2 separate regions of the Homo sapiens genome follow, and region 1 is linked to region 2. Evidence: fine-mapped expression QTL. A gene starts in region 2. The other region holds a variant in brackets. All regions are shown on one strand. Distances are between the middles of the regions. Region 1 has its middle 10 kb from the start of PEX10. Region 2 holds the start of PLCH2 (phospholipase C eta 2).

Region 1 (10,994 bases), 51 kb after region 2:
CGCCCTTACTTCCAGCCACACTGGTCTCTGCGGCTCCTGGAGAGCTGGAGAGGGCCTACAGGTCAGAGGAGCACTGGCTGGTCTTGTCATGGGGCCATCCCCAGCGAGGCCTGCTGCTCCCCGCCCTGGCCATGGAGTGCTGGCCGATCCCCAGGAGCCCAGACCCTGGCCTAAGAAGGGGACATTGCCGGTGCCAGGCCTTCAGCCTCTGCTCAGACCCTGGACCTGCTGCCTTGGGCAACTCTCACTGACAACGTCACTCGGGGCCAGGCTGGACCGGGCCATGCTGGGGACAGGGTGGAGAGGTCCCCTGGACCCTGTCCCCATTGAATCAGGAAGCACAGCCCAGGCCCAGGCCCAGCTCCGGGCCGAGTGCCCAGGGTGCAACGACCACACACAGACCAGCAGATCTTCCTCTAGGCAGGGACCTCTGCCCTCGAAGCCCCCGGAGGATGAAGTGTCACCCACTCAGCAGGTCCTACAGCCCTAAGTTCCCAGCCTGCCCGCCCACTGCTCTCACCCACAGGGAGAGCCCAGGTACCTGCTCAGGGCCAGCGAGTCCAAGCCGGCTCCCACCCCTGGAGGGCTCCCACCCCCGGAGGGCTCCCACTTCTGGAGGGCTCCCACTTCTGGAGGGCTCGCCGGCTGCTTCTGTTTCAATACCTGCGGTGGCCCCTCACGCTGTGTCCCTTGGATCGCGAGCTCCCAGCAGAGGTACCGGAGGCCCCCACAAGCCCCGGCCTGCTCCTCTGACATCCTCCCATCCTCCCTCCCACCTTCTGCGGCAGTGCCCAGGAAGTGGGGTGCCACACCCTTGGCTGGTATCCCCTGGCTCAGGAAGCCCCCTGAGGGCAGGTAGAAGTGGGAGCCTCAGCCTCTCCAGGAAAGATGTCACAGAGGGGCTCCCTCTCCCTCCTGGCCTGAGGCCCCACTGGCCACCCAGCCCACAAGAGAGTCCACTCTCAGGAGGGAGAGATTGAGGCCCAGAGAGGGCAGGACCCTATCCCGGAGAAACCACCAGCAGGGGCGGCTGAGCTGGGGCGGGTTCGGCTGCCCCCAGCACCTGACTCGTCCCAGACCTGCGGCCCCGGGCCCCCACGAGAGACCCAGAGGGTGAGGGGACAGCCTGCCTGCCCCAGCTGCCCTCCTGGCCCCAGGGCGCCCCACTGCAGCCCACTGCCCAGCTCCTCAACGCCCCCAGGAGCTCCACCCGGTGGGCCCCTAGCCGCCGGCACCCGCTGTCACACAGAGGCCACCTCCTGCTACTTCCCTGCTACCCTGACTTCCGTCTCCAGGCTGAACGTGGGTCCCAGGTATGGAGACCCCCGGCCAAGACGTCCTGGGCATAGGAGGCAGACCAGGCCCCATGCCAGTGAGCCTATGGCTGGGCCTCTGCCACTCTGCCAGGGGCCACTGGCTGCCCACAGTCCTCCCCACTCTCCCAGCCCAAGGCCCCTCTGTGAGGCCCTGCTCCCACCCCTGGACTTAGCGGATGCAGGGAACACAGACCTAAGGCCCCGGAGAAGCCACAGGCCCCAGCAAGCTCAGCCGCTGCCCCCAAGCTGGTGGGGTTGCTGGAGCCCGCCTGGCTACGCCCACCTGCTGGCCTGGCCGCACAGGGAGACAAAGAACCCAGCAGCCCCGACCCCACAACCGTGTCAGGAAGTGCGAGGCTGAGGCCAGGCCCCTCCATGCTCACAGCGGGCAGGAATGCCAGCCTGCACATCTGCGCTCAGGGGCCAGCTTCATGGAGGGAGTGGAGCCCGCCCAGCTCGCCGGCACTCTGGAGACAGAGGGAGGGGTGTTTGACAAGGGAAGGGAAGACCGCGAGGGGCCAGCCCTAGGTCAGCGTGGGAGCACTGGGCCGAGCTCGTGTGTGTAGGCCGGGGACTCCGCCACTCTGACCCGGAGGGAAAGGCCCCCAGGACCCCATGGGGACTCAGGAGGCTGCTCACGGCAGCCCCGAACCAGGGACTTTGGGAGGCCATGGGGTGGGGGACACCCCGGAGCCCCACTCAGTGTTAGAAGCAAGAAGGGGAAGCTTAGTGCCAGGTGGAGAAAGTAAAGATCAGAACGGGGTGCTTGGCCAAACACGGGGCCATAGACACTGCTCCCCAGAGTGTGGCCCACATAACCCTGGGGTCCTCAGAATCTTCCAGGAGCCTGCAAGGTCTAAGCTGTTTTTATGTAAAGGAGGTGTCCCTTCCCCGCGCTGACATCTGCACAGATGGTGAAAGGCTCTGATGGGTGACACCCTGGGCCTCGGCTCAGATACAGTGTCCTTCACCAGTGCGTGCTCAGAATTAAAGCAGAGAAGAGGCCATTTCCCTAAGAAGGTCTTTGTTGAAACAGCACAAATGATGAACTGTACCAAAGCTCAGTTCCGTGCAGGGAGCCAGGGAGAACAGAAAGCTGCCGCAGCAAAGGGCGTTTTCCTGGGAGGAGGCTCTCGAGCGACGGGGACTCCAGCTGAATTAGCCGGGGGACCCACAGTATAGTGGGGAGCAGGACTTTCCTGGAAAGACAGCTGAGACACTGTGGTGCTGCCGGCCGTGTGCTGCATAGGTATTTCCTCAAAAATGCATGAGCCCAGCGCAGTGCCTCACTCCTGTCATCCCAGAACTTTGGGAGGCCAAGGCAGGTGGATTGCTCAACTGAGGAGTTTCAGACCAGCCTGGGCAACATGGTGAAACTCCATCTCTACAAAAAAAAAAAAAACACACCAAAATTAGCCAGGCGCGGTGGTACGTGCCTGTAATCCCGGCTACTTGGGGGTCTGAGGCAGGAGAATCACTTGAGCACAGAAGGCAGAAATTGCAGTCAGCCAAGATCATGCCACTGCACTCCAACCTTGGCAACAGAGGCAGACCCTGTCTAAAGCCTGCCACCTAAAAACCAGCAGAGCAGATCCAGCAACCCCACTCCTGCATATACTCCCAAAGGAAATGAAATCCACGTGTTGAAGAGACCTGCATTTCCATGTCCACTGCCACACTGTTCACAACAGCCGAGTTACAGAATCAGCCTGAGTGTCCATCAGTGGATGAGTGGATACAGAAAATGTGTGTGGGGGGGTGTATGTGTGTGTATATGTGTGTATGTATATGTGTATCTGTGCATGTGTATATATGTGTGTGTATATGTGTGTATGTATGTGTGTGTTACATATGTGTGTGTAAATATGTGTGTGTGTGCATGCGCCCAAGCAACGAAATACTATTCAGCTTTTTTTTTTTTTTTTTTTGAGACGGAGTGTCACACTCTATCGCCTAGGCTGGAGTGCGGTGGCGCGATCTCCGCTCACTGCAGCCTCCGCCTCCTGGGTTCAAGTGATTCTCCTGCCTCAGCCTCCTGAGTAGCTGGGATTACAGGTGGCCGCCACCACGCACGTCTAATTTTGTGTTTTTTGTTTTTTGTTTTTTTGAGACGGAGTCTTGCTCTGTTGCCCAGGATGGAGTGCAGTGGAGCAATCTCAGCTCACTGCAACCTTCGCCTCCCGGGTCCACACCATTCTCCTGCCTCAGCCTCCCGAGTAACTGGGACTACAGGCGCCCGCCACCATGCCCAGCTAATTTTTTTATTTTTAGTAGAGACAGGGTTTCACTGTGTTAGCCAGGATGGTCTCGATCTCCTGACCTCGTGATCCGCCCGCCTTGGCCTCCCAAAGTGCTGGGATTACAGGCATGAGCCACCGCGCCCGGCCTAATTTTGTGTATTTTTAGTAGAGATGGGGTTTTGCCATGTTGGCCAGGCTGGTCTCAAACTCCTGATCTCAAGTGATCTGCCTGCCCCAGCCTCCCAAAGTGCTGGGATTATAGCTGTGAGCCACCGCACCTGGCCTCAGCCTTTAAAAAGGAAGAAATTCTGTCATTTTCAACAACATGGATGGAACTGGAGAACATCAAGTTAAGTGATATAAGCCAAACCACAGGAGACAAATACCACATCTTCTCACTTATATGTAGAATCTAAAACACCTGAGCTCATAGAAGCAGGGTAGAAAGCTGGTCCCTAGAGGCCAGGGTTTGGGGAATGGGGAGATGATGGCCAAAGGGTGCCAGGCCTCAGTTAGACAGGAAGGGTATGTTTTGTGGTTTGGGGGAATTTTTTAGTTCTGTTGTGCAGCATGGTGAATATAATTAATAATAGAGTTTCGTGCATTTCAAAACTGCTAAGAGTACATGTCAAATGTTCTCACCACAAAAGATGGTAAATATCTGAGGTGATGGTTATGTTAATTAGCTTGATTTAAACTGAAATGATTGTATTTAAAAATCATAACATCACTATCTACCTCATAAATATATACAACTATAATCTGTCAAATATATACTTTTAAAAATGAAATTTAAAAATAAACAGGCCGGGCACAGAGGCTCATGCTGGGAGGCCAGGGTGGGAGCACCACTTGAAGACAGGGTTTGAGGCTGAAATCACCCCTGTAAACTTTATAAAATTATTCAGAGAAGAAGGGAGGGGGAGAAGGGAAAATGAACTAAGCTGGTGGTGCAGGCAGCGTCACGACGAGGTGGGCTGGCTCTCTGACCTCTCCTCATAACTGTTGCTGCCTACTGCCCCAGAATCACACAGACCCCGTCCCAAGATCATAGTTCCCCTAACTACCATAGAGAGAACAACTTAAACATTGTAAAAGGTTGATTTCCATCTGAGATGCTCTTTCAGGTCCTGCATAACAGTAAAATTACTGATGCCAGCTGGTGGGAAGGACCTCACAGGAGCTGACTCACCAGCAAATGCATTTTCCACCTCCTGATTTCATCCCCCTTACCCCAACAAGTCAGTGACCCCAGCTTCTCCAGCCCCTCACCCTCCATAATCTCCTTAAGAACCCCAGCCCAGAACTCCAGGGGAGGTGGATTTGAGGGTCTCCTCCCATCTCCTTGCTTGGCACCTGCAATCATTAAGCTTTCTCTGCTGCAAACCCTGCTGTCTCCGTGTATCGGTTGGTTACTGTGCAGAGGGCACACCAACCTGGTGGCCTTGTAACAAGAACAGCAGGGACAACAGAGCAAGATCCCATCTCTTTAAAAAAAATAGCTGGGTGTGGGGGGATGTGCCTGTGGTCCCAGCTACTCAGGAAGCTGAGGCAGGAGGATTGCTTCAGCCCAGGAGTTCGAGGTTACGGTGAACTGTGATGGTGCCACTGCATTCCAGCGTGGGGGACAGAGCAAGACCTTGTCTCTAAAACAAACAAACAACAAACAAACAAACAAACAAAAAAACTAAATAAAACCCTCTCCAAAACAACACAAAACAGCAAATTGCAGGATCTGTTGCCAATAATAAAATTCAGGCTTAGGTAAAAATCAGCATTTTGGAAAACTTGTATTCATCACTGTGAGTCTATCAGCTTCCAAATATTTAAAGGCTTTTATCGTGAGATCGGGGTGATAGTAATGTGATTTTGGGATAATATTTAATAAAACGTGTCAAGATTTGAAAAATCTGCATAACTCAGTAAACCAATATTTTTCAAATTATTAATACCAAAACATGGTCTTCCAAAATTATGCACAGGTAAATTTCCACTCAAAGTGAAAAACAGGGCCAGGTACAGCGGCTCATGCCTGTAATCCCAACACATTAGGAGGCTAAGGTGGGAGGATCACTTGAGGCCAGGAGTTTGAGGCCACAGTGAGCTATGATGGTACCACTGCACTCCAGCCTGGGCAACAGAGCAAGACCCTTTCTCAAAACATAACAAAAACAAAAAACAAAGTAAAAACAGACCAACAGATGATAATGTAACACAACAGATGATAATGTAACAATACAAAAAGTCCATTGGCACGGTTTCAGATTCTGTTATCGCAACAACCTGTAAGAAACTCTACCATTCATCCAGTCCGGGTGTACCATCAGAGAAGAGTGTCCATGATTACCTGAAAAGGCGGCTCAGCCCTGTGAGGCCAGATCTCTTCACTGATTTCAACCAAAACACACTGCGACAGATGCAACGCAGATGCAGACAAACATTCAAGAGACTGCAAAACTGC[A/G]AAGCCACGTCCCTCTTCTCACTGGATTTTTTTGTTTTGAAAGTATTTTTCATAAAATGTTAACGTGTTATTTCTATTAACATGTCATTAGTTTATGGGTTTTTGTTTGTTTGTTTGTTTTTTGAGGTGGAGTCTTGCACTGTCCTCCAGGCTGGAGTGCACTGGCGCGATCTCGGCTCACTGCAACTTCCACCTCCTGGGTTCAAGCGATTCTCCTGCCTCAGCCTCCCGAGTAGCTAAGATTACAGGCACCTGCCACCATGCCCGGCTAATTTTTGTATTTTTAGTAGAGACATGGTTTCCATGTTGGCCAGGATGGTCTCAAACTCCTGGCCTCAGGTGATCCTCCTCCTTCAGCCTCCCAAAGTGCTGGGATTACAGGCGTGAGCCACTGCGCCTGGCCTTTTCTTCTTTTTTTGAGATAAAGTCTTGCTCCGTCGCCTGGGCTGGAGTGTAGTGGCGTGATCTTGGCTCACTGCAGCCTCTGCTTCCCAGGTTCAAGCAATTCTCCCGCCTCAGCCTCCTGTGTAGCTGAGATTACAGGCATGCGCCACCACGCCCAGCTAATTTTTGTATTTTTAGTAGAGACGGGGTTTCACCATGTTGGCCAGGCTGGTCTCAAACTCCTGGCCTCAGGTGATCCTCCTGCCTTGACCTCCCAATGTGCTGGGATTACAGGTGTGAACCACTGTGCCTGGCCCGTTGTTATTTTCAATAAGACTTCATGAATATTTTCATATTTTTTTATGAAGGTGGTGTAAACATGTGGTGTAAATATTCCCACTTGAGCCCACAGAGCACAGAGTGGGGAAGAGATGGACAGTATCATACGGCATTTCCACTAGACAGACACACACAGACTGCACCCAGATAACAGCGTGGATCACAGTAAGCTAGAAATAATTAGGAAGCAATACATTTTGAGTATTTATTTCCTTTGCTTTTTATAGTATTTCTGTGTTTTACATAATTTAATTACTTTAATTTGATTTGAATAATGGTTGTGTCCAACAACCAGCTGATGAGATTACTGGAGATGCTACCGTAGGTTCTGGTGAGCACGTGCAAGCCTGCTCCAGCACACACTACAGACAGCACCCCAAAACCAAAGCTCCTTGGGCTTCTCAACAGCTGCTAAGAGTGTTGGGGCCAGATGCAGTGGCTCACGTCTGTAACCCCAGCACTTTGGGAGGCCAAGGAGGGTGGATCATCTGATGTCAGGAGTTCGAGACCAGCCTGGCCAACGTGGTGAAATTCCGTCTCTACTAAAAATACAAAAATTAGCCAGGCGTGGTGGCGCATGCCTGTAATCTCAGCTACTCAGGAGGCTGAGGCAGGAAAATCGATTGAACCCGGGAAGCAGAGGTTGCAGTGAGCCGAGATCGCACCACTGCACTCCAGCCTGGGTGAGACTCTGTCTCAAAAAAAAAAAAAAAAGTGTGAAGGGATACTAAGGCCAAAACATTTGCACCCCACTAATAGTGATTAAAATACTCGCACCAGAACAACACAGCATTCTGGAAAATACAAAAAACGAGATACACACTCAACGCTCCTCAGAAGGAGTCCCAAGGGGGAAGAGATACTGATGTGGGTAAAGGCAATGAATCGATCGATCACTCACTCCACCCTCCAATCGAGAGAGGAGCGACTCCCACAGCCCTCCAGGCCTGAGGCCTGAAGAGGAGATTTTTCAAAATGGGGGTCTCTGGGTCAGAGGTCAGCTTGAAGCCTGCCCTTAAACTCTCCCTCTCTGACTCAGTTTCCTCATCTGTAAAGCGGGGTGCAAAGAGTGTGCCCCAGCCCTGGGGTCCTGAGAAGCTGGACCTGGCAGGCGGACTTGAGGCCCTTCCTGTGGTCCAGCTCCGGGACTCCCCAGCCCTCGGGGCTCTTTCTGCAGCCCCTACCTACCGGGACATAACCGTTCAGCCCCGCATCCCACTGTGGATCCGCAACCCCGCCCCTGCCTGGACCTTCTCCCCTTGCCAGCATCACTGGGCCCCACAGGCCCCCACACCCACCTCTCGAAGGAGGTGGAAGCTTTCAGACCTGCACCTGGGAAGCTTTGTCCTGAAATCACAGGGCAGGGGGCTGAAAGTGGAATCGAGCAGCGGGAGGAAGGACAAGAGGTAGGTGCTGCCTGGATGCCCCCCAGACACTGGCTCCTTTGGGATCCAAGTCTTGGGGAGGAGTTGGGGTCAGCTGAGAGGGATGTGAGGTAGGGGCTGGGGCGGGGGGCCTGTCTGAGTCCTTAACTCAGCACTGATGAGCTCCTGACCAATGACCAGAGATGGCGGGGAGTGGGGAGGCAGGTTACTGTTGCTGTGCCTGCCCCCACCCCCATAGCTGTACCCAGGCTACTGGGGAGGCAGCACAGGAGGGGGTAGTGGGGGGAGCGCACAAAGGGGTTGCCTGGGGGTGGGGGGGGGACTTGGCCTGCTATGCTTGAACTTTGAGTTGGCAAGAGCCGACTACGGGCAGCAGGTGCAGCAGTTCCGAGGCAGAAAGGGCCTGGCTGGCCCCAGCCCAGGGCTGGCTTGAGGGTCCCAGTCCAGCTTCTACGGACAGCTTCAGATTAATCCCCCAAGGATGAATATGGTGGAGCCCACAGGAAGAAGGATGAGCGGCCCCCAAGTCTCCAGAGCCCCATGTCACCACCTCCACCAGAGCCAGCAGCGCCTCCTCAAAGCTGGCCCCCGGGTCTGTGGATGCCAGGGTCAGGCACGGGGATCCCTGCATTGAGCTCCGGGCAAGAAGAGCCAGTGAGGTGGTGGGGTGGTAGATCTGGAGAGCCCCGGGCCCCTGCCTGCTCCCCTTCCGCCCTCACCGGCCTCACATCCCCAGGGGAGACCCTGCACCCCACTGCCATGGGAGGCGCCTCTGTCAACAACAAGTGGAAAACCCCCCCGACCAACGGCCGAGGCCCGGGCCTCAGAGTGTGGACCAGCTCCGCACAGGCGCCCCTTCGATCCCCTCTGGACAATTATTGTCTCTTCACAATCAGTGGGAAACTCAAGGACCAGCAAATAGGACCTCCAGGGCCAACCAGGAATGGCACGGCTGAGCCAGGGGTGCTGAGGGAAGGGGCTGGCAGGGGATAGATGGATTTACGGATGGATAGACAGACAGCAGCACAGCCCAAGGCCTCCACTGTGGATTGAAGCTCGACCGTGCAGACCAGGCCGGCAGCCTGGGAGGGGACAGATGACCGCAGGTGGGAAGGGTCAGGGCAGGCTCTCCTGGGACGGGCCCCACGCAGGGAAGGGCAAGGAGCTGGGCAGACAGATGGGGGAGCCTCAGACGCCACATCCTTGGCCAGGTGTCACATGCCCCAGCCAGAGGATGAGCCGTGCCAACCGCAGAGAGAGGCGTCGGGCACAGACCCCGAGGATGGGGAGGTGAGCAGGTCCTCTCTCGGGTAGGGGAGTGGTAGGAAGAATCAAGGGCTACTTGGCTGCAACCCCAATAAGCCAGGTTTTGCGCCAGCATTTCCCCACCCAGTGTGGGCTGAGGTGGGCAGAGACCTGGGCATAACTGGGCACTGGGAGATCAGCAGCCAGGGAGAGGGGGACAGCCAAGTCGAGGCCATGTGCAAAGGAGAGGCCGTCATAAGCGCACAGGTCAGGTGTCTGCGGAGCACACGGCTCACTCCCACTCGCACAGACAGGACCTGCGGAGGCAGGCGGGCAGGCTCAGGAGTCCAGGACGGCACCCCTGGAACTTGGGGAGCCTTTGCCTGACTGAAGATCCTGAGCCCTGAGGAGCAGCCTCGTGGGGAGCCCTTATTGTCCATCGGGCATCAAATGCCAGGTTCAGAACTCCTGAAGGAGGCGGGTCAGAGGAGAACAGGAGTGGATGACCCACACCATTCAGCCGTCCGAGGGAGGCAGTGGGTGGGGCCCAATGCCAGCCATGGCCCCGGGGCCCCTCCTTCTAGCACGTGGTGGAGCAGAACGACCAGAGCCCTGCCCCCTCCACTGAGACCCCCAGAGCTCGCTGCAGGAGCCCCCATGCCTGACCCTGGCATCCAGACCCGGGAGCCAGCTTTGATAACTAAAACACCCCCACTCCTGTCTCTCTCGGTCTAACTGAAGGCGCCCAGAGGAATGCTGGACGCTGTCACTGTCGGCAGCTGCTCATCGGTGTGAATCAGTTCAGTGCAGTTTCCAAAAAACAAAATTCAGAAACCAACTAGCTATGGGGCTGAAGACAGAGCAACGTGGGCTCTGCCCGGAATTCTCGGGGGCACCTGCCGTGATGGGTGTCTGCCTCGCACCGGTCACACGTCTTCACTGCGCTGACTCCACAGCTCCTGCAGGTTCCTGAGTGCCTGCGTGTTCGCGTTTGGGGGCAGGACACAGGGATGCCCTGGGCTCAGCCTCTTCTCACCAGAGTCTAAATGCCTGCAAAGCCCTGAGCTGGGGGTCCGAGGCAGGCCCCGGAGGGCACCCCACACATGTGCCATCCTGAGTCCTCTCATAACCCGGGAGGCAGGGGCCTCTATTCCCCCACTTGACAGGTGAGGAAGCTGAGGCCAGGGAAGACCAGGAGCTGCTCAAGGTCACACCTCAGCGCAGAGGCTGTAGCCCCTGCCCGTCCCCTCCTCCCAGGGCTGCCTGGCTCCCAGCCCTGACTCTGCCTTAGGGGAGGCTGTGTGGGGAAGGTGGCGTGGCAGTGCCTCAGGAGGTGGCTCCCAGGTGCCCTCCAGCCAGCACACAGCCCCTCACCGGCTGGCCACACTCAGCACAGCCCAGGCTATGCAGTGCTCGCAGGACAGGGCCGGACTCTCCACAGCCCATCCAGATGCCCACATCCAGAGTGGACGCCATTCCAGCTTGGGCCTCCCTCGTGGGTCCTCTCCGGCCTTGCCTAGTACCCACAGGTCCTGGGCTCACTCTCCTGGGAACCCCACCCTGTGTGATTCCAGACTCACCAGGCCCCCTCCCTCCGGCCTCACAGAGGAGGCTGGGAAGCTGG
Region 2 (10,978 bases):
CACCTGCAGCCCCCAGTGCCCGGCTGGCCCGGGGCTCCACGTTTAACCAGCACGTCTCCACGTTCCAAGGAAGCCCCTGGACACCTCCAGGGCTCCAGCGCCGCAGGTGGGGACAGCGGCTCCAGGGACCCCCAGCTCCGCGCTCAGGTGCATCGAGGCTCTTGTGACCTCAGGTCCCCCTGGGGGCTCCGCAGCGCGACTCTCTCCACGGGCCCAAAGTGGCTACACGCTTGGCAACTGCTGGGCTGAGGCCTTGCCTGGCATGCCTGGGTCCTGACCATCAGCAAAGCCATCAGAAACCCTGGCTGCGCCCTGATCCCAGCCCTTGAGGACTGCCATGTCTCTCCCCAAACCGTGGGACCCTACCCGTTCCCTGTGTGCCTCAACTCTCCCCACCCACCCCCTGCACAGAGCCTCCATCTCGGGTGGCCCCTGCTCCCTCCAGCAGCCATGCCCAGTGGCTGCCTGAGCCACTGTTTGCACCCATACCCATCCATCAGCATACCTCTGTGGGGGTCGTTTCTGTTTATGGGGAGCTGTGACCTCCCCAGCTAGATGGACTATGCTGTGCCCCTCCTTCCAGCCCAGCACTCAGCACAGGGCTGGGCACAGTGCTACTCGGTCCTCACTGAGTCCCAGGGAGCTCTGCCAGGCGGGCAGGGGGCCTGGATCCCTCCTACCCCACAGCCCGAGGTCACTGCAGATCCCCAAGGCCACTGAGCCCAGAGGTGTCCAGGCCTAGGGTCTCGCTGCTCCTCAGCCATCAGTGGCTGCCCTGGGAGGGTCCCTACCGTCGTGTCCCCCCAGGGACTCTGATTTGTCCCCACCCCAGGGCTCCCACTCACTCTTGGCCTTCTCGTTCTTGCGTGAGGGCCTCCAGCGGATGCAGGAGCGGTGCTCGTCCAGGTAGTAGAAGCGGACCAGGCCCTTGGAGCCGCCACGCAGCTTCACCATCTGCATCCCCTCTTGCATGGCACCCATGCACCGCTCCACTGGACACGGGAGAGACACGGCTGTCAGCGGAGGCACAGCCACTCCTCGCAGGAGAGACACGGCCGTCAGCGGAGGCACGGCCACTCCTCACGGGAGAAACACGGCCGTCAGCGGAGGCACGGCCACTCCTCACCTCGCCCGGCCCCGCCCACACCGCCCTGCCAGTGACAGGGCAAAGGCCAGAGCCCAGGGCCACCTCCACCCCAGGTGCCGGCTTGCCTGGGTCACACAGCTCAGCTGGGCCCTGCCACTCCTCCCCAGATGGTCCTGGGAACTGAGGGCCCTGCTCCCCACCCTGCTCGGCCACCTGCCACTCCCACCACCTCCTGGACCAGTCCTAGCAGCCCTGGTAACCGGCGCTGGGCCTGGGGCCCCGAGAGCTACCACTCAGACGGAGCCAGCACAGAACTCAACAATGGGAAGGCCGGGCACGAGGCAAGACAGATGAGGTGGCTGGGCTGGCTGTCTGGGGCCATAGTGCAGTGGAGGCCCCTTGTCAGGGGCGGGGTGGGCCTAGCAGGCAGCAACCCCATGCCCCTGCCCCCGCCCCTGGCCACAGGTGGCTCCTGGGAGCGGTCGAATTCCTGAGTGCCTGTGCCCCTGCCTGGGGCATCTCCAGGAAAGCCCCCACCCCTCATGTGCAACAAGCGCCACGAATGGTGCCATGAATGTCTGCGTCGCACGCCCTGCACTGCAGTATGGACTTGGGAGGCTGTGGTGCCGGATCCGAGCTTCACAACCCCTCCCCTCCCCTCCCCCAGGCTGCCTGCCTCGCTCCTTCTCTCCCCTCCTCTCTCCATTCAGCCTCCTGCTGTAGCTTGTCCCAGGAGAGGGGGCTGCAGGGTCCAGGGAGTCCAGGCCAGAGTCAGCTGTCCCAGCCCAGGAACAGACTGGTCTCACCCCCTCGGTTCCTGCACACCTGCTCACAGAAAGCCCGGGTCCCAGAGGTACCATCTGCTAAAGCACAGAGACGTTAATCCCCACCCCAGGTCTGCACGCTGAGGGACCCTGGCGGGGGCGTTGTAGAGGACCAAGGGCAGTACTGGCCGGGCCTTCTTGGGGAAGCTACTACGTGATCACGAGCAGAGGGGAATTGAAGGGATGGAAGCCATGGCATGGGGGGCTGGGCTCTCCGGGGCACATGGGAGGTGAAGACGCAGGTATGGCTGCAGGGATTTAGGAGAGGGGTGAGGCAGGACACAGGGGCAGGGGGCGGGCAGAGGCCTGCAACAGGGCAGCCTGGACAGGACCCTGTCTGCCGCTGGAACAGAGAGCTGGCAGGCCAGCCCGGACCGGGGCCCTCCACAGGCCACCACAAGACACACACTCCACCCTCCCAGCCATACCCAGCCAGTCTCCTCTGCAGAGTCTCCTAACGGCAAAGGCCCTCATGTCCGGCACCAGGATGCCAGCCCAGCCGCCTGGGCTGCAAGCACCACTGACCCCCAGAGCACAAGGCACCCCTTCAATGAGAGCATTGGAGCCACCTGAGATCCCCCCTCGCCCCCTTGGGTTCAGCCCCCAGGCCCTGCAGGTGCCTGGGAGACCGAGGTGTGCTGAGCACGCCTCTGAGCGGCTGAGGGGCAGGGCCAGCCGACGCTGCTGGACCCACATGATCCCTAGAGCACCCGGGGGACAGGGGAGGCGAGTGCAGGATGGGATGGAGGCCCAGGCTTCCCCCACCTCCAGGAACAGCCCCCACCCACCAGTCACCTGGCCAGGGCCAGCACTCAGCCCAGGCCACTCGCCTGCCCCTTCTTACCCAGGGGGCCGAGCTGCCACTCTGAAGACAGCACCACACTCCCTCCAACCCAGAGGAGTACCTCCGCCAGCCAGGCCACCGTTCCCTTGGTCCGGCTGTCGGGGGAGGGCCATGGACCAGACATGGCCTGACGACAGCCGGGCCTGCTTCACGGAGGCCACAGAGGCCCACCGGCCTTCGGGCAGCGGAGGTCAGGCAGTGGCAGCGCTGGCGACAGGACCTCCGTGGGGCCTTCTCTCCTCTGCCTCTTCCTCCTCCTCCTCAGGGCCCTCCGAAGCCCCCACAGGGCTGTGCCCAGGCCCGGCTGGCATTGGCCTGACCGTCACCTGCTGTCCTGATGGCCCCCAGGCCAGCCTATCCACCCTCCAGGGCCACCAAGGAATCCCTGACGCAGCCGCCTCCCAAGGCTGGGGGAGCAAAGGACCTCAGCCCCGCCCAGCCCCAGGCCCAATCCCTGTGCTAATCCCAGCTCCAGCCCAGCTGGTGGAGGATTTAGGCCGAGGGAACTCCCAGCTGGGGATGGGAGGGCACTGGGGAGGCAACAGAGTTTCCCAAGGCCCCAGGCCACCAGACCCAGGTCAGGGCTGCGGGACAAGAGCAGGACCAACGGGAGGGCCCTCCTGGGACCCAGAGAACGCAACCGGAAGGCCTGCAGGGTACTGTCCTCCGAGGACCCTGTGTGGGGTGGGCCTCCCCGCTGTGCGCCCACCACAGATGCCGAGGCTGGGCCTGGAGTGGTCCCTGCCCTCACCCCGCATCCCTACTTATGAGGACCTCTGAGTGGATCCCCAAAGTCCAGAGGCAGGTGGCCCAGAGCAGGGGCAGAAGCTCACCTCATCCCCGCAGCGCCCAGCCCCTGTGGCTGGAGAGGGGAGCCGAGCCGGATCCCTTACAGCGACAACTCCCAGCCCAGGCCCAGGATGTGGGTCCCTGAGCCTGGGTTGGGCTCTCCATGTCTCCCTCATGCAGCTGCAGCCCCAGCCTGACCTTTCTCCACGGTCACCGAGCTGTGGCGGAGGAGGTGGCCCCATGCCCAGGGCACGTTTGTCCCCACATTCTGCCCTGCAGGGATGACAGCCATCTGACCTGGACAGGGGCCTCGCCCAAGGAGGACCCACCCCACCGTCTCAGCTCCCACTGAGGAAAGGACTCCAGGTCCCACTGCCACCAGGACCACACAGCCCACCCTGTGTACTGGCCCCGCACTACAGGACAGCACAGGCTCTCCCATCCCCAAGTCCAGGCCGGGACACCAGGGGCAGCTGTGGGAATGGGAGGTGGGCAGACCCCGGCTGAACACCAGCCACCTGTGTCCTGGCCATGCCCATGCTTCGTGACCACACTGGGGAGAACCCCGCCCTTCTTCCCACCCACTGCCCAGGCTCTACTGGCTCCAGCAACAAGGACTGGAAGGTTCCGGGCAGCTGCTCGCCTCCCCCCATACCAGGGGAGGAGTTTGGCCTGCAGAGCCCAGGACAGGGAGGTGCCAGGGCTGGGCATCCTGGCAGAGCCCCGGGGCCAAGGTCAGGCGTGGGAGGTGGCAGTCCCTGAGGAGATGGCCATGCGTCTCCAGCTGACCACTGACAACCAGGGCCACACCCAGCCAGATCAGATGCAGTCAGCACAGAGCCAACCCAGGCCCCCACCAGGGGCCCCGTCACAGGCTCTGCTGCTCTCGGCGGAAGCAGGTCAGCAGGCGTTTCTGGGCTCTGCCGTGGAATTAGATTAGGGAGCCATGAGCTGCAGGGAGAGGAGAGGGGCTGGAGTCCCGGGCGTCCTCAGGAAGACAGGGCCTCGGGGAAGGCCACCGTGTAAGGGGCAGCGCAGGGGCCAGGAGGTGGCCTGAGGGCCTGGAGACAGACCAGACGGCCATAGCCCTGGCCCAGGGCCCCTGCCCACCTCATACTGGGCTGCTGCGGGCTTCCACTCTGACCCAGGGGGTCCAGTTCTCCTTCCTGCACCTCAGAGGCCTCCTGGCCTGGGACACACCTGCTGTTCCCTCACCCTGGGCCTGGCCCCAGCTGGGGGTGCTCCCGTCTCTCACCCATCCCTCCTTGAAGCTCCCCAAGGCTGGGCCTCTGCTCCCTCCCTCCCTCCCTTGAGCTCTCAGCCACTAGCTGATCCCCCATCAGCTGGGGTTAGGGCTTGGAGGCCGCCATCTGCCTGGGCAGGGGTTCTGAGAGGAGCCACACATAGAGTGCCTGGCCCCAGCCCCACAACGTGGGTCCCAGGCTCCTGCACCCCAGGCCCCCTGACCTCCTCAGCAGCAGAGCTGGAATCCTCAACTGTCCAGGCGGGTGGAGGCCTGGCTAATCCCTTCCTGACACAGGCCTCTGCCGGGGGCTGCCCTGCCTGCCCTGAGGTCCAAAGGGACCGCCCACTCCCCTCCAAAACTCAGGCAGACACAGAACCGCAGCTGCAGCGTGAAGCCGGGGGTGCCCCGGGCCAAGAGACGTGGCAGGGGCCCAGGCCCAGAGACTTAAGAACCCCTCCCCACGTGCTGCCTGTGAGCCGGCCCAGGGCCCAGCCCAGCCCCCACACAAGGTCACGGAGGGGGCTGCCCCACCCCCATGCCGGCAGGCGAGCCCAGCCCCACAGCCTGCACTGACGGGCCCTCATGCTCACCCTGCCTGCCCTGAGCCAGGGCCCGGCCATCCTGAAAGCCCACAGGGAGGCCGAAGAAGCCACGCTCTGCTCTGTGGTTCCACACAGGGGCCCAGCCCTCAGCCATGGTCCACACCCACCCCCAGGCCGCCTCGGCCCCTCCCGTGAGCCTGAGCCAGGACACCTGATGTGGGAGCTCAGGTGGGATTGTAGCAATGCACCTGGCTGTGGGCCCACACCAGAGGCCAGACTGGGAAGGGCCGGCAGTCCTGGTCGGGCAGATATAGGCTCCGTCGGGGAGAGGAGGGCCCTGGCTCACCTGCTGCTCCCCCAGGTCCCTGCACAGCACAGTGGGGCTCCCCAGTCCTCAGAGCACTGCCTGACCCCGGGACATCCCTGGGGCAGGGACCTCGAAGTCCTCCTCCCTGCTCTGTCCCTGTGAGGCCATGATCCAACACGTAGCAGGCGCTGGCTGGACACAGGTGGACAGGGAGGGACGGGCAGGACAGAGGCAGCTAAGGCCACCAGGCCTGCTCTGAGGAGGTGACGGGAGCCAGTGTCCACACTGGTGTCCAGGGTCCAGCTCTCAAGGGTCTGGCCGGCTTCAGCCCTGGGCCTGGAGAAGCCTCCCACACAGATGCACCCAGATGGGCGGATGGGTGGACAGACGGGCAGACGGGGCTGCACCCCAGTTGGGGAGAGTGCATGGGAGGGCTCTGCGGGCCCCACGGTGACACGCAGAGGAATGCGCCCGTGATCCCCTGGGCTCAGCCCCCGCACCTGGGCTGCACCGGCCCACCCTGACTGCCTGGCCCTGGTGGCTGCTGGGAAGCAGGGGTCCTGGGCCTGCCCCCCGACCTTGGGTTGTCCTCCCTGTCTCAGTGCCTCAGTTTCCCCACTGTGAGAGGTTTGCTCCTGCAGCCCCTTCCTTTCTTCCCAAGGCTGGAACCGGGCGGGTGGCAGCTGATTAGAGGAAGAGCGCGCGCTGTCAGAAGCCAGGGCGGTGTTGGCTTAATTTTGTTTTTATGGCGGAGATCGATCTTGTCCTAACACAGCAGGCAGCATGGGCCTCGCGGCTGTCATCAACAAGGGGCCAGCGGTGGCTCAGCATCTCCGCCTCTCCCCTGGGGAAGGCTGGAAAATAATGAATCTTCCAACAAAACCCACAAATCACACCCACAGGCCTCCCGGCATGTACACACACACCCGGGGCAGCTTTGGGTACCGCAGCCCCTCCCACGACAGGGGCATGGGGACTGCACATGCCCCTCCACCAACCTCTTCCCTTCACGAGCGTGTACGGGACGGGCAGGGGCCCCACCTCTTCCAGGCCTGTCCAGAGGTGGCCCTGGCTGCCTCTAAGCCCCCTCCTCTCCCGACGCTTGCTGCCTTTCAGCAGGACATTTCAAAGGACCTCCCTGGGCCCACCCGTGTCTCCCTCTGAAGCCCCCACAGGGCTGTGCCTGGGCCCGGCTGGCATTGGCCTGACCGTCACCTGCTGTCCCAATGGCCCCCAGGCCAGCCTACCCACCCTCCAGGGCCACCAAGAGTCCCTGAGGCAGCCGCATCCCAGGGCTAGGAGAGCAAAGGACCTCAGCAGCAGTGAGGCATGAGGGCCAGATGCTCCTGCAGCCCTTCCTGGCCCTGGCTCTTCCGCGCCCCCCTGCCCCTCGCAGCCCCAGCATCCCCCTCCCGTGCTGCCCCCAAGGGCCGGCCCAGCATGCAGGAGGGGCTGAGGCTGTGCTTGGGTGGACGGGAGGGAGGAGGAAGTGGCCACCTTGCCCCAGCCACAGTGCTCACTGGAGATCAGCCGGGCCCCTGGACTGGCGCCGCACGGGAGGGAGGGCCGGGCCCACACACATATGGCGGAGATTATTTAAACGTCTGAGAGAAGCCACTTGTCCCCCCGCACGTCTGGGAGCCTCCTCCCCAACTATTTTTATTTTATCAGGAGTGTGAGTCGGTGCCTCGAGCCCTCCCCACAGGCAGGACCCCAGAGTGGTCGTGCTAGGAGCCCAGGGATCCCAGAGTCAGGCTGGGCCTGAGGGGTCCCAGCAAGGGCAGGGGAACCAAGGGCAAGTGCCCGGGGCCTGTGGGGCTGGGGCCACCCTAGGCACACCTGGAGGGCACCGCAGGGACAGACGCTCTGCCCTCTCCTCTGGCAGCGCCCTCCGTGTGGCAGCCACTCCAGCTCTCAGCAGGAGGTGGGGGCGTTGTGGAGGGAAGGGCCTGACCCCATGGCAGTACCCAGCTCGGCAGGGGAGCAGGCCGGAGGGGGCCCTGGGGCCTGACTTTGTTCTGCCCCCTTGGGTGGCTCCTGGTCCGTGTGCACAGAGCCCTGGGGGAGCTGGAACGGCCAGTGTCCTAGAGCGTGGGGACAGGTTCTCGATGGCCAGCCATACTCCATCGGCCGCGCCACCTGACCTGCCCTCCACCTTCCACCGGCCCCAGAGCAGGGGGAGGACAGCAGCCAGGCTCATGCTCCCCTGGTGGCCCAGCTGCTGCTAGAAGGATCCAGCTCCCACAGGGCCCAGAGGGAGGGCCAGCAGACACCTTTCTTCTGTCATCCGGCCACCCGGTGTGGAGGGATGGACAGGAGGACTTGTGATGGTCACAGGTGTCCAAAGCAGTCCCAGTTGCACAGAAAGGTGCAGGAACTTGAGGCCACTGGACCCTCCAAGCAGCCGGCAGTGGCAAGTGGACAGGATGGCCTCTGAGGCCAGGTGACCCGTACCTTCCCCCAGTGCAGCCCTTCTTGTGCAGGTGGGCGCCTGCCCAGCCCAGGCCTCCACACTCTCCAGCTGGCCCGCTATGGCCAAGGGGGCCCCAACATCTGGCCTTTCTCTGGCCTCTTCGGGACAGCCAGGGCCAGGTCCCCATCTCAGTAAGGGTCCCTCCCAGAGTGGGCTCCCCTTCCTGCCCCCTCGCCGTCCCCAGCCATCCCCAGCTGGTGGCAGCCCAGCTCACAGCAGCGGTATTAATCGCACTTGACAGCCCCATCAGGAAGGGGACCCTATTAATAGCCCATTTCACAGCTTCCTCCCCCCACCGCGAGTGCCCCCCCCATTGTGTGTCCCTGGAGGCTCCTGTCCCTGCCACAAGTCACTGGTTTCTCTGAGGCCCTGGCTGCCTCTCTGCCCTCACTGAGCAGGGCATGGCCAGCAGGGGCATCGCACCCACCTGGCCTGGGGCTCTCTGAAGGCAGGTGCACGGCCTTGCCCCCAGCCACCGTCCAGGACACCCCAGAGGAGCTGCAGAGGGAGCCAGGCTCGTGGCAGCCACGGTGGGGGAGCCTTTCCTGAAAAGTCACCAGATGGAGCCTGGCCTGCCAGCTGGGAGAGAGGGAGCTCCTGCCGAGTGAGGGGAGGGGGCTGCAGCTCCAAGGGGAGGGTCCTCGGGCCAAGTGGTCAGAGCCAGCCCTGCCCCCAGCCCATAGCCAGGCGCGGGAGGGAGGGTGGCAGCTGGGCCGCTGCCAGGCAGAGCAGGCATGGAGCCACGGAGGAGGCGAGGAAACAGGAGGCTGAGCCCGCCACATCCGTCCCGGCACGGGGCTGCTCTTCCCGGCCAGAGCACCCCGGGCCACTGCCAGGCCGGGGAGCAGCCCCACGAATGCTCTGCCAGAGAGTCTCAGACAGAGAGGGTGTCCTGGAGATGGAGCTGGCCCTCTGAGCTTCCCTGCCTGAAGTTTCTGGGATCTTGTATAGTCGTTCCGTCCCTGTCTGGACCTCCCTGCTCAAGCTGGCCCTGGGGCTGGGCTGGCTGCCCTGTCTCCCACTCCTGCCTTTTGGGAGCCAGTGAGGTGCTCCCTGGGTCGGCCCCCACCCACACACCAGCTGACCCAGGAAGGGCACAGGGCTGCCCCTGAGAACTGGGCCGCCCGAAACCTCCACAACAGGGACCTGAAAGTCGGAGCAGCCAGGGGCCTGATCAATGTGAAATCAAGACCACTCAAGTCCCTCAGAGGTGTGTTCCTGGGTCGCCAGGTCTGAGCGGTGGAAGGGACCTACTCCCAGGACAGTGTGGCCACCGTCCCCAAGTCAGGGCTGCATCATGGTGCCTGGGACCTGCCTGCTGAAAGAGCCTCCTGTAGCCCTCACCCAGGTGCTGCTCTCTGGGGCAGAGCTGGAGGGGGTTCCACAGTCCCACCAGAGTGGCTCACTGTTGTCTCCAGTGACCGTCAGCCACAAGGCCCCCTCTCGGGGTCTTCACCCAGCTAGCATGGAGCCATGCCTGCGGCCACCACGGTGAGTGACTTCTCAGGAGCCAGAGGAAACGTCCTGTCCTGGGGATGGTGTCCACCAACTCCACCCTGCCCCCACACGGGAGGCCCGCGCCCACTCGCCTTTCCCACACAGGAAGTCCGTCCAGCCGGTGGGAGCCCACGTATGCAGTGCTGGGAGCAAAATCCCGGGAAGAAACAGGCACGTTGGATTACTCATCCCCTTCCCCAACCCCTCCCCCTGCCCACCCTCAATGAAGGTGGAGCCACTGGGCCTGGGTCCCTGAGAGGGCCCCAGGCACCCCACACACACCTGCCCCAGCAAAGGGCACTGCCCGGGCAGGGCCAGCCCATGGCTTCTCCAGGAGAAGGTGCCAGGAACTGGGACGCCATCGTCATCAGCTCATTAGCTGTGCAGATGGAGGGCTGGACCCAGGACACTGGCCCATCTGCTCCGTCCTCGGCGGCACGTGGAGTCTGTAAGGACTGTTCTGCTGGCTCCCCTCCCTCTGCCCAGAGGACGCAGGCACGGAGGGTGGGCTCAGAGCCACTCCCACCACTGCCCCCTCCTAAGACTAGGCCCTTCCCTGGCCAGCTGCAGACCCCAAGTGTGCTGGGTCTCCTGGAACCTGGGGCTTTGGGGCCACCCGGCAGCAGCCAGCCCCTGTCCACAGCAGGCAGGCATCCTGAGCCCAGTGGCCAGCACAGGGCAGTGACTCCAGGGAGCTCTCTGCAGGCCAGACAGGCAGGAACCAGGGACAACGTGCCCAGGAGAGCCCTGGGATGGGGGCTGCGGTCAGCGAGTGGGTGCACCTGGAGTGACCTGAATATACAGCCCATCCTACAAACAGTGTCTGCCCAGCAGCCCTGGTTACATCTGCCACACTATTCTCCATTCAGAGAGGGCACCTCCACTGGGGGTGGGACAGAGGAGGGGACAGGCACCCTGGAGCAGCTGCACAGGCCAGGCACGGCATGACCACTGCAGACAGGCTTGCTCTGAATGCCCACAGCCACCCTGTGAAAGCGCCCCATGCTATCCCTCTTGCCCATGGAGGCTCAGAGAGGCTCAGTCCCTTGTGTGAGGTCACACGGTTTATCAGAGGCAAAAACCAGCAACCCGTCCCCAGTCTGCCCAGCAGCGATGCCATGTCCCACCCCACGTGTCCATGCCAATCACAGGGCAGAACAAGCAGGTTCCAAACCACCAGGAGGCAAGCTCCTACTGTCCCTGGAAACCCAGGAGTTCCTCCTGGTGTCTGGCCTGAGCCACTTCTTCTGCAGCCGTGGCCACTGTCCCCCTTCACGTTTTCCTCTCCCCGCCCCTGGCCCAGAGCTAGCGCTGTGTTTGGGGAGCTGGAGACCCTGCCCCTCTGGCCCAGAGCTAGCGCTGTGTTTGG

What was found.
Region 1: its variant is fine-mapped to the expression of PLCH2 in whole blood (TOPMed, PIP above 0.99). The same link has a PIP of 0.9 or more in blood mononuclear cells.

What each region holds. Positions count from the first base shown.
Region 1 is chr1:2,417,415-2,428,408 of GRCh38, reverse strand. It overlaps a transcript of PLCH2 not described here. Among named protein-coding and RNA genes, the nearest start is that of PEX10, 10 kb to the right of the region's middle. The variant A/G (reference allele first, on the strand shown) is at 6,018.
Region 2 is chr1:2,468,490-2,479,467 of GRCh38, reverse strand. PLCH2 (phospholipase C eta 2) reads right to left here and starts at 3,179. Exons shown (of 22, transcript NM_014638.4): 1 at 2,756-3,179; 2 at 846-992. The coding sequence starts at 2,879.